Homo sapiens: one gene and its partners. The protein of the gene in region 1 purifies or fractionates together with the protein of each later gene. This does not show direct contact. Each region holds a gene or a part of one and is shown in the gene's direction. Other genes may lie near its edges. The genes, in order: PER2, CIBAR1 and REXO5.

Evidence for each region.
Region 2: the proteins of PER2 (region 1) and CIBAR1 purify together in Homo sapiens (affinity purification with mass spectrometry; one large-scale study listed by BioGRID and IntAct). This does not show direct contact.
Region 3: the proteins of PER2 (region 1) and REXO5 purify together in Homo sapiens (affinity purification with mass spectrometry; one large-scale study listed by BioGRID and IntAct). This does not show direct contact.

What each region holds. Positions count from the first base shown.
Region 1 is NC_000002.12:238,253,969-238,257,618, reverse strand, and holds part of PER2 (period circadian protein homolog 2), read left to right. Parts: intron 1-532; coding exon 533-697; intron 698-1,707; coding exon 1,708-1,962; intron 1,963-3,650. UniProt on the Homo sapiens protein: Transcriptional repressor which forms a core component of the circadian clock.
Region 2 is NC_000008.11:93,703,513-93,707,162, forward strand, and holds part of CIBAR1 (CBY1-interacting BAR domain-containing protein 1), read left to right. Parts: intron 1-107; coding exon 108-176; intron 177-1,396; coding exon 1,397-1,498; coding exon of another isoform or gene 1,499-1,536; intron 1,537-1,912; coding exon of another isoform or gene 1,913-1,931; exon of another isoform or gene 1,932-2,523; intron 2,524-2,532; exon of another isoform or gene 2,533-2,684; intron 2,685-2,984; exon of another isoform or gene 2,985-3,650. UniProt on the Homo sapiens protein: Plays a critical role in regulating mitochondrial ultrastructure and function by maintaining the integrity of mitochondrial morphology, particularly the organization of cristae.
Region 3 is NC_000016.10:20,804,975-20,808,724, forward strand, and holds the start of REXO5 (RNA exonuclease 5), read left to right. Parts: upstream 1-1,552; 5' UTR 1,553-1,731; exon of another isoform or gene 1,732-1,871; intron 1,872-1,977; 5' UTR 1,978-1,979; coding exon 1,980-2,117; intron 2,118-3,750. Other genes in the region: ERI2 (ERI1 exoribonuclease 2), read right to left, coding at 1,434-1,456.

The sequences.
Region 1 (3,650 bases):
GCCTGTAATCCCAGCTACTTGGGAGGCTGAGGCAGGAGAATGGCTTGTACCTGGCAGGCGGAGGTTGCAGTGAGCCAAGATTGCATCACTGCACTCCAGCCTGGGTGACAGAGCGAGACTCCATCTCAAAAAAGAAAAAAGAAAGAAACAGGGTATCCCGGATTATGGTTGGCTCCTGACTGTCGGAAAGCCCCTCCCCACAGGCCTGCAGAAGGGCTGCCTGGCTGCAGGCAAGAGCCCCTCACCAAGTGTGCCCTGCAGCTGCCAAGCTGCTGCGCCTCCCTGCAGAGGCCTCAGGATTTAAGTGTGTAACTGCTCCCATTTCAGAACTTTCTCTTTTCCACTATTCTTCTATGAATAAACATTGGGGACAAATCACCCCATGCCTGGGCCAGAGCATCTGTGGGATGGGATGGGATGGGTTGTGTGCACCCTGGTGTGGAAGCTGTATGGGCACTTGGGTGTCGGTTTCTCATCTGCACAGTGCATTGTAATGACACACTAATGTTTGTTCCCCCTTCCTCTCATGAAGAGGCAGAGCCGCCCTCCAGGGTGAACAGCCGCACGGGAGTAGGTACGCACCTGACCTCGCTGGCACTGCCGGGCAAGGCAGAGAGTGTGGCGTCGCTCACCAGCCAGTGCAGCTACAGCAGCACCATCGTCCATGTGGGAGACAAGAAGCCGCAGCCGGAGTTAGGTATGACTATGGGCTCTTGGATCAGAGAGCAGTTTGATTTTTAACCATGAAAACAAGAAGTTTGCCATCTTAAATTTTTCTAAGTGCAGAAGAACTCCACCATAGCCCGATAGGGGGCGTTTCAGGAAATCCAGTTACGTAAAATGCAGGGTGGAGTGCGGCCAGCCAGGGCCCAGGCAGCAACCTGTCCAGGTCTCTGCTGCCCTGTGGTGCCCTCCAGTGGCAGTTGTCTGTTCTGGCATCAACGCAGGAGGGTTGATTGTGGTGCAAGATCTTATCCCCTTTAATTGGTGCGGAGAGCACTGGGAGCGAGGCCCCACCTCCCTCTTCCCTGGGCAGGCCTGGGGTTCTTTCCTCTGCCCAGCAGAAGGTGCGACCGTTAGCTCTCCCTGTTTGTGGACAGGAGCCAGTACAGGTGGTAAACAGATTTACAATGAGCGCATTGGTGGCTGAGTGTTCTTGTTCTTTAGAATATTATGATTAAAATGAATCCTGAATTTGTTCTTTACTAAGAAGAGGGAAATGATAAGGAAAAAGTGTATGTCCAAGATCCAGTCCCCAAGCCCTCCCTTTCAGGATGGTCAGTGGCCCTGCCTGTCCCTTGTCCTGTCTGCCCCATGGGCCCATAGGGTCCCATCTATCACCATGCCTGGTCCCAAACCCGGAAAGACTCAGCACGTTGATCCAAGTTTCTGGTGTTCTGAAAGCTAAGGACAGCCGAGGGATATCTTCAGCAGCAGAGCTGAAGCCCAAGGTTCCCCACGTTTCCGTTTGTTCAGCCCCAGGTTCCTGAGCACCTGGCTGTCAGGGCTGTCCTGCTCTGCTTCTTGCCTTTTGCCATGAACTTTCTCAGAAAGCTAAATGAAAACGCTGTGAGTCTCATCCTCATGCCACAGGCATCATGAAATTACTTTATACGTGAATGATTTGTCTTGTTCGTGAATATAGTGTGGCCTTAAAATAATAAACAGGGCACGTGTGGACCAGAGCCCTGGGTTCTTGTGTTACAGAGATGGTGGAAGATGCTGCGAGTGGGCCAGAATCCCTGGACTGCCTGGCGGGCCCTGCCCTGGCCTGTGGTCTCAGCCAAGAGAAGGAGCCCTTCAAGAAGCTGGGCCTCACCAAGGAGGTACTCGCTGCACACACACAGAAGGAGGAGCAGAGCTTCCTGCAGAAGTTCAAAGAAATAAGAAAACTCAGCATTTTCCAGTCCCACTGCCATTACTACTTGCAAGAAAGATCCAAGGGGCAGCCAAGTGAACGAAGTAAGTGATACCCGAATTAAAAGTGCGTTTTAAAAAACTTTATTCCTGTTGGTACTGAGTCCAGTGCTGGTTTCAAAATGTGAAATGTGTCCAGTTTCAGAAGCATTAACATATAAGACAGCTGTTGGAACTTCCCTGGCAACGCCATCTGTTTCTGTAGAACTTCCCACCGGGGGGGTGCTCTCGGGATGTCAGCTTGCATTCCCTGGGGAATAGTCCCAGGCTAGTGCCCGAGGTGGGAAGAACCATGGCAGGGCAGTGCTGCCATGTCCACATTTCTTGCCTGAGTAACCATGTGGGCAGGGGCCCCACCTGGACGGGACCTCCAGAGAATCAGCGAATTCAACCTCAAGATAGTGGGCATGTAGTGCTGGGCACATGAGGAAGGAGGGATGTACCATTTCTGGTGCCCTTCTCCCCAGGAGATGCACCCTCCTGACTGGGCCAGCCTCAGGGCTGGGCTTTGGACTCCAGAGTCAGGCAGAGTCCATGGTCATGGTGTGGGAAGCTGCTGTGTAGGCCAGGTGCCACTTGGGGGGTTGAAGGTCAAGGGATGAAGTAAAATAGATGAGCTTCTTCACCCCTTTCCTGGCCCAGAAGTCTGGCTCCTGATCCCCCAGTTCCTTCCCATACCCCCAGACACTTGTTAGAGATGGGGCCTCTTCCCTTCCCCCTGGGACGCTGGCACAGGGATCAGAGCCAGTGAGCCCAGGAAGCCACTCACCACAAGGACCCAGCTCCCCCGGGTCTCTGGGCAGACGCACCAAGGGAAATTTGTAAGAAATTAAGCCCACAGCTTCCTTGAGGATTATGTCTTCTCCACTCTTTCCTTTCTCTCCTTCTTCCCCAGATTCAAGAGTTACTGCCAGCCCATAGAGAACCTCTGTAGAAATTAGAAAAAGGTGTACTCCATGGCCATGAGCAGACCCACCCCATGGGACCAGCCTAGTGCAGAGTTCCCGCTCTTGCTTGCCCCCTAGACAACTCTGTAGCCTTATGCAGTGCACAGACTACAGAGCTGCCTAGGGCAGCCCTGCCAGACCCAGACATGACATCCCAGGAGCCCAGTGCTTTAGCCACTGTTCCCACCAGGGGACAGATTTCTTGTGAGAAGAACACCAGATAGAGAGGCTGAATTGCAAAACCTCCATTTACATAGGAGTTTGCCTTGGACTAGCCCATTTCCCTTCAGCACATCCCAAAGGCATGGGACTGCCTTGGCACAGCTGACAGATGTCCCAGACACCTGCTGCAAGAGCCCCAAGTCACTCCGCGTGATGTGAGAGGAAAACCAAAGTTCCCTGGATCCCCCTCCCACTCCCCAGGGAGGCCATGGGGACATACCCAGAGTCCCTCCTTTACCAATTGAGTCCCTCCATCTTCCTGAAGAATGCCTTACTCAGCAGCACTCGTTATTGCAGAGGAAGAATTTGGTTGCAAGGCAATGCTCCCCTCTGATCTTGCTCAGGCTGTTTGACAGGTGAAAGAGGAAACATCCCTCTTTAAGGAACAGTAGTGACAGTGCTTATAAATTGAAAAATAGAGGAGGTCAGTGGCTCTCCCGTTCAGATTTCACTAACCAATTTTTCCCCCAAATACTGGGGAACAGCAGAGACATGACAGCTTTTTAGTGTATTTATTTAACAAATAGAACTTTGTATTACCACTTATCATATTAGCATTTCATA
Region 2 (3,650 bases), on another chromosome or scaffold:
TGTTTTGAGTTTAGATTCTGAGTCTTATCAATTTCTAGTGATTAGCCTTTTATTTATAGGTTAAAATGTTAAACGTTCTAATTTAAAATTTTAATAATTTTCAATAGGTTGAAAGACTTGAAGCCAAAGTAGTTGAACCCTTGAAAACTTATGGGACCATTGTGAAAATGAAACGGGTAAGTAAATCCATTTTCTCACTTAACTGTGAGTTACTCTGGCAAAGACTATGAGGTTTCCAATTGTTTTTTTAAATAAGAAATACAAAGTAGTGGCCAAGAGTGGTGGCTCATGCCTGTAATCCCAACACTTTGGGAGGTCGAGGCGGGCGGATCACGAGGTCAGGAGTTTGAGACCAGCCTGGCCAACATAGTGAAACCCCGTCTCTACTAAAAATAAAAAAAATTAGCTGGGCATGGTGGCATGCACCTGTAATCCCAGCTACTCAGGAGGCCGAGGCAAGAAAATCGCTTGAACCCAGGAGGCAGAGGTTGCAGTGAGCTGAGATAGCGCCACTGCACTCCAGCACAGGCGACAGTGTGAGACTCTGTCTCAAAAAAAAAAAAAGAAAAGAAATACAAAGTAGTATATAGTCATTCTTTTTACTCTGAAAGATCACTTAGATCTTTAAGAATAATGAAATAGTTTTAATGAGCTTATTAAGTATACTGTAGCAATATAGACATTATTATGGAAACTTTAAAATAATTATGAAAAATATATGGACAGAAATTGCTTTACTATATGAATATAAGTTTTTCTTTAAAGCGATAGCATTTAGACTTTTAAAATGTGTGAGAGAGTTCTATTTTTAAAAGTTACTTTATTGATAATTTACATCAGCAGTCCCCAACCATTTTGGCACCAGGGACCGGTTTTGTGGAAGACAATTTTTCTTTAGTTCACAATAGGGTTTGCACTCCTATGAGAATCTGATGCTGCCTCTGATCTAACAAGAGGCAGAGCTCAGGCCTTAATGCTAGCTCGCCCACCACTCACCTGCTGTGCTGGCCCAGTTCCTAATAGGCCTGGGGGTTGGGAGCCCTTGATTTATGTGCGATAAAATTCTTCCATTTTAAGTGATCATTGAGTTTTGGACAAATGTTTATACCCATGTAACCACTACCGCAATCAAAATTACACATTTATATGCATATATCTATTATGGTTAATAGTTTTGCACTGAAATTGTGTCATTATTTTGAGAGAATATTAAACACATTCTCACATACATAGACACTAATTATGTAATACTTGTAATTCCTGTGGTAATGGTACCAGGATCACACAAGAAGTATTCTTCCATTCTTAAAACAATTCTTAAAAGAATTCTTCCATTCTTAAAACTGAATTTTCTTAAGTCAGACATTTTTACTAACAAAAAAATGCCAATTTGCAGGATGACCTCAAAGCAACACTCACAGCAAGGAATCGAGAAGCTAAGCAATTAACTCAGTTAGAAAGAACACGTCAGCGAAACCCATCTGATCGACATGTTATTGTATCCTTTGAATTTGGGTCTTTAAAAAAATGTTTAAGGTATGGAGTACAAAAGTAAATGTATATAGAAATTGTGCATTTTTACTTTTAAACGAGTAGAGAATTTGAATATAAAGATTGAAAAGAAATGCATTTAGGAATTCTCACTATAGAAATTTTAAAGAGGTTACGCCACCTAATTCAAATCCCCTTATATTGTTTTACACAGTAGACTTTGCAAACGAACAAACAAAAAATTCAGATGTTTTTATAAACAGTAAATTCAAATTTCTGAATTTTATTTTCACATGGTGATGACTAAATATTAATTCTACAATTAAAGATCTATTGTTAATCCTAATATATCAGTGTCCTCTATGCCCTGCTTTGAGAAAAGGAAAGAAAATTTTCCCATTTAATTTCCTTCATCTTTTAGAAATAAAACAACTATGTGACATCATGACTTCCAGCCAGTTAACCTCAGGAGTCTTAAGAGTATAATTAAGATCCAAGTTGGACACAAACCTAGAAAGGACTGTCTACTATAACAAGGTTCTTCTGTTAAACATGACTTTCTTAAACTACAATGTGCCTTGTTCGTGAGTAAACAAAAGCATACAAAATAGTGCCTAATTGCCAGCAACTGAGATGGGTAGGACTGTGTAGAAAGCACTAACATCTGGCTGGGCGTGTTGGCTCGTGCCTGTAATTCCAGCACTTTGGGAGGCCGAGGCAGGCAGATCATGAGGTCAGGAGTTCGAGACCAGCCTGGCCAACATAGTGAAACCCTGTCTTTACTAAAAATACAAAAATTAGCCAGGCATGGTAGTACACACCTGTAGTCCCAGCTACTTGGGAGGCTGAGGCAAGAGAATCGCTTGAACGTGGGAGATGGAGGTTGTGGTGAGCTGAGATCACACCACTGCACTCCAGCCTGGAAAACAAAGCGAGACTATCTCAAAAAAAAAAAAAGAAAAAGAGAAAGAAAGCACTAACATCCCTACTGCCTCTTTTTCCCATTCCTTCTTCTATATGTCTCCTTCCTGCTTCCTTAAGGTTGTTACTGCCCAGCTCAGCCAGAAACCACATGAGGAGTGGCTCTTTGAGAGCATTTGAGGTTCCAGAACACCTCCATTCCTGAGGGGAGTCTCTTGAGCAGCGATTTGGGGCTGCGCCAGTTGCTTGGTCCTTCTTCCTTTGGACCAAAGGTACAGAAGCCCAACTTTGTACTAAACAAAAATGGGCAGCCATAGGGCTGGGAGTGCCCACTGGAGACTGGGACAGAAATATCTAGATAGTCATAGTGGCATAAGATCCGCAAATGGAGATTATAGAATCTGTGTTTTAAGCAAGTCAGACAAACCAGAGAATGCTGGAAAATTTATGACTGATAACTAGAGATCAAGGCAGAGGCTATGGGGCAGGGTGGGTGGGGGGGTTCACCAGTGTTTAAGAATTAAGCTAGGGATGAAAATTTTTTGTTTTGTTTTGTTCTTTGTGGCCTGGAGTTGGGGAGGTGGTGATACATGAAGACATCTGGAATCCTGAGTAGTTGGCAAGATTGAATCAGGAGTACTGGTGTCTACAGTAAACACAGAAATGAATCTATTCCTAAGACAAACATTTTTCTGACTTGGATGCTGTGCTGTAAACACTGCTGTGGAAGGGAGATAATCTTAGAGCACAGATGAAGCAGGTCTTTGGGTTCACATGGTGAGGAAATAAATATAACCTAAGAGATTACTGCCACAGGTGAGTCAGTGTGCTCACTGGGTAAGATCTGCAACTTGTGTATTTTGACAACCTGAGACCAAAACATGAAGGACAATCTACATACAAATGTAGTCAATATAAATATACAAATATTCGATCATAGTATTATGGCATATTTCCCAGGATAAACTCTTAAAATTCATCTATGTAGAAGTATGTTTAAGTTTGATATGTAAGATAAAATGGAGTCCCTCTGATAGAGAGGATAGGGAAAAGAAGAATCCCATGGCTCTGCCTGCTCACCCCCCAAGTAGGGCTCCAGGTGACTCCTGAACAAGCTTCCTATAATGCAGTGTGAGAAATACCAATCTGGCTTACCCTTTTAAAAATCATTTTGAACTCTTAATTAATTCCATTTAATATACTGATATCTGTATTCATGGAGTTGTATCTTAGTATTT
Region 3 (3,750 bases), on another chromosome or scaffold:
TAATTTGCCAAAGAACATAGCTTTGGTATGTGAACCCAAGACTGTCCAATTCTGAAGCTCATGCTATTTGCTATTATATTACATCTTTCTAGTAATCAGAAATATGCACAGCGCATCCAGGAATCAGGGAGGACACAATAATTCATATTGTGAATTAAAAGGATCACTAGGCCAGGCACCGTGGCTCACACCTGTAACCCCAGCACTTTGGGAGGTTGAGGCGGGTGGATCACCTGAGGTCGGGAGTTCGAGAACAGTCTGACCAACATAGAGAAACCCCATTTCTACTAAAAATACAAAATTAGCTGGGTGTGGTGGTGCATGCCTGTAATCCCAGCTACTTGGGAGGCTGAGGCAGGAGAATGACTTGAACCCGGGAGGCAGAGGTTATGGTAAGCCGAGATCGCACCACTGCACTCTAGCCTAGGCAACAAAACTCCGTCTCAAAAAAAAAAAAAAAGATCACTAGAAAATGGGTTTGTAAAAAGTAGAGGTTCCTCTTCAAAGACTTCCTTCCCCGTCTAATTAGGAATAAATAGTAACTTCTCTTAGAGCAAAATTTATTCAAAGACCTGTGCTAACATTCTTAAATATCTGCTAGATATAATAAAGAAATCAATGTACTTTATGTTCTTAGCTCCCACAATTTAGCCTAAATATTTGCCCTGGCATGCTTATACTGGTCCAATCAAACATTAGGTCATAGCCTGTTCCTCTTCCTTACTTAAAAGTGTTTTTACCTTTCTCAGCATTCCACAAGTTACTTCCTTCTTCCTTTGTTCTCCTCTGCCTTTGCCTCTTTTAAAAAGTTCTATGTTGCTAGTCAGTCGGGACAAATACAGAATGTGAGGTCCCGTTCCAGCCAAAGGAAACCGGACACAGCAGTAGGGTGGACGCGCCACGTTATAAATGACCCTGTCTCCTTTGTTCAGTGTACTCTCCTGGCAAAACTGCTGGCGAGTGTACCCTTTCTGCAGGAAGTAAAAATGGCCTTACTAAATAAATTAAATTTAAGTTTAAGTTCTATTTCTTTACAGCACCGAGGAACGAGCATTTCGAACAGGTTGAACACCTTGACAGATTCAGTGTGTGGCCTGCCTGAGACCTCCAACCAGTCTGCAGGGCACTGTCACGTCCAGTCGTTTCCCAAGGCCTAAAATAGGCAGGCACTGGCTCAAGGCCACACAGTCAAGGCCCCAGGGTTCGTCCGCCTCGGGCTCCTGTCACCCTCGGGTAGAAGGTGGCCCAAGGCTGAAGACCGAGGTCCAGGGAGGCGCCTTTCCAACCGTGCCAGAGAGGGCAGGTCGCAGACGCCGGGGCTGCGGGGAATAGAGGCCCTCACCGCAGATGCCACCTGCCGTGCCCTGCTCTGCGGCCAACGCCAGCGCTGGACCCGGAGCTACCCGCCCCCGACCCGGAACTCCCTCGAGTACCGCGCGAGCCGCTTGGTCGCCATTCCCGACACTCCTTGCTTTTCCAAGTCCAGCTGCCGGAAGTCGCTCGACTTCTACTTCCGGTCCGTTCAAAAAGCCCGCGAGGCTGAGGGGCGGTTGTTGTTGGCAGCTGTGGCTAAGGAGGGGAGAACCTCTGCTCCCCGCCCGTCTTCTCTTCTGCGTTTCCCGGGCTAGGGGGCGTGGGGAGTGGTTTTAGGCGGCGAAGCCGCTCGGCAGCACCTTCCTTCTTTGCCAGGCAGACGCCCGTTGTAGCCGTTGGGGAACCGTTGAGAATCCGGTAACCGATGCGGACGGTAAAGCCGTTTGGGTTAGAGCGGCGCGGGTGTCCAGTCCGCGGAACGGGGAGATCGTTGGCACCTTCGCTTTTTTAGGGGAACGGGGATAGTTCGGTAAACTGAATTGAGAAGCGGATCCGAGGGAGGTTGAAAGCTGTCAAGCCCGTGTAGCTCTCCCGCTAGGAGGCGGCACGCGGGGGAATAGGGGCGCTGGAGTTTCCCCAGCTCTACCTCATCTTTCTCCACAGCCATGGAGCCAGAGAGGGAAGGGACCGAGAGACACCCCAGGAAGGTCAGGGAAAGCAGGCAGGCCCCAAATAAGCTGGTCGGGGCAGCTGAGGCGATGAAAGCCGGTTGGGATCTCGAGGAGAGTCAGCCCGAGGCCAAGGTGAGCAACGGGGATCCCGAGCAGGCGGCCCTAGGCGGTTTGGAGCTCCCGGACCCTCGCCCAACCGCCGTCGGGGGCACTGGATTCGGGCGGGCTCTCCGCCCTGGCCTCTCCGAACCTGATCCCTGATCATTAAAATGGGAATGAGTGTAATACCACCTTCCTGCAACAAGGCTGTCATTGGCTGTCACTGGGATAGTGAGTCGGCCGAGTGCGGTGGCTCATGCCTGTAATTCCAGCACTTTGGGAGGCCGAGGCGGGCGGATCACGAGGTCAGGAGTTCGAGACCAGCCTTGTCAACATGGAGAAATCCCCGTCTCTACCAAAAACACACACACAAAATTAGCCAGGCGTGGTAGTGGGTGACTGTAATCCCACCTACTTGGGAGGCTGAGGCAGGAGAATCGCTAGAACCCAGGAACCAGAGGTTGCAATGAGCCAAGACCACGCCATTACACTCCACCCTGGACAACAAGAAAGAAATCACGTCTCAGAAAAAAAAAAAAAAAAAAAAAAACTGGGATGGTGGGCCGGGTGCAGTGGCTCACGCCTGTAATCCCAGCAGTTTGGGAGGCCAAGGCGGGAGCATCATTTGAGGCCAGGAATTCAAGACCAGCCTGGGCAATATAGCAAGGACCCCATCTCTTAAAAAAAAAAAACAAAAAACAAAACAAAAAAAAAACTGCCTGTACATAATAGGAATGTTCATCGATATCCTGGGGCACAAAAATACAATTCCTTGCCCTCGTGCAGTTTACATTCCAGTAGGGCGGGGGTCCCCAACCCCCTGTGCACAGACTAGTACCTGCCTGTCCATGGGGTCCCCAACCCACTGTCCACAGCTGGCCTGTTAGGAACCGGGCCACAAAGCAGCAGGAGGTGAGCGGTGGCCGATAGAACGTTACCCCCTGAGCTCCACCTAGGCATTAGATTCTCATAGGAATGTGCCAAACCTATTGTGAGCCCTATTGTGAACTTTGCATACGAGGGTCCTAGGTGGCATGCTGCTTATGAGACTCTAATGATAAATGTAATGCACTTGAATCACCCCGAAACCATCCCCCCAGCCCTTCTCCCAGTCAGTGGAAAGATTATCTAACACGAAACCGGTCCCTGGTGCCAACGGTTGGGGACCGCTGCAATAGGGGAATAAAAAGGCTGATTATCCCTATCATCCTTACCATTTACTGAGAACTAAATATACTTCATTCATCCCTTCAGTCGTTCATTGGGCTTTTTTGTTTGTTTTTGTGTTTGAGACAGGGTCTCTGCTCTGCTGGACTCAGGCTGGACTACAGTGGTGTGACAAGGATCCTCCTGTCTCTGCCTCTTACAGGCATGAGCCACTGCACCCAGCTATTCATTGGTTTTTATTGTCTGCCATGTGCTGGGGCACTGACCTAGGTGCTTGGGGTACATCAGTGAATCAAGTTCACTGCCCTAGTAGGTCTTATATTCTAGTGGGCAGAGACAAATGATAAAAATAAGTTATAATATGTGAGAGAGGGATTAGGGATGTGATTTTTTTTTTTTTTTTTTTTTTTGAGGTGGAGTCTCCCTCTGTTGCCCAGGCTGGATTTGGCTCACTGCAACTTTTGCCTCCCAGGTTGAAGTGATCCTCCCACCTCAGTTC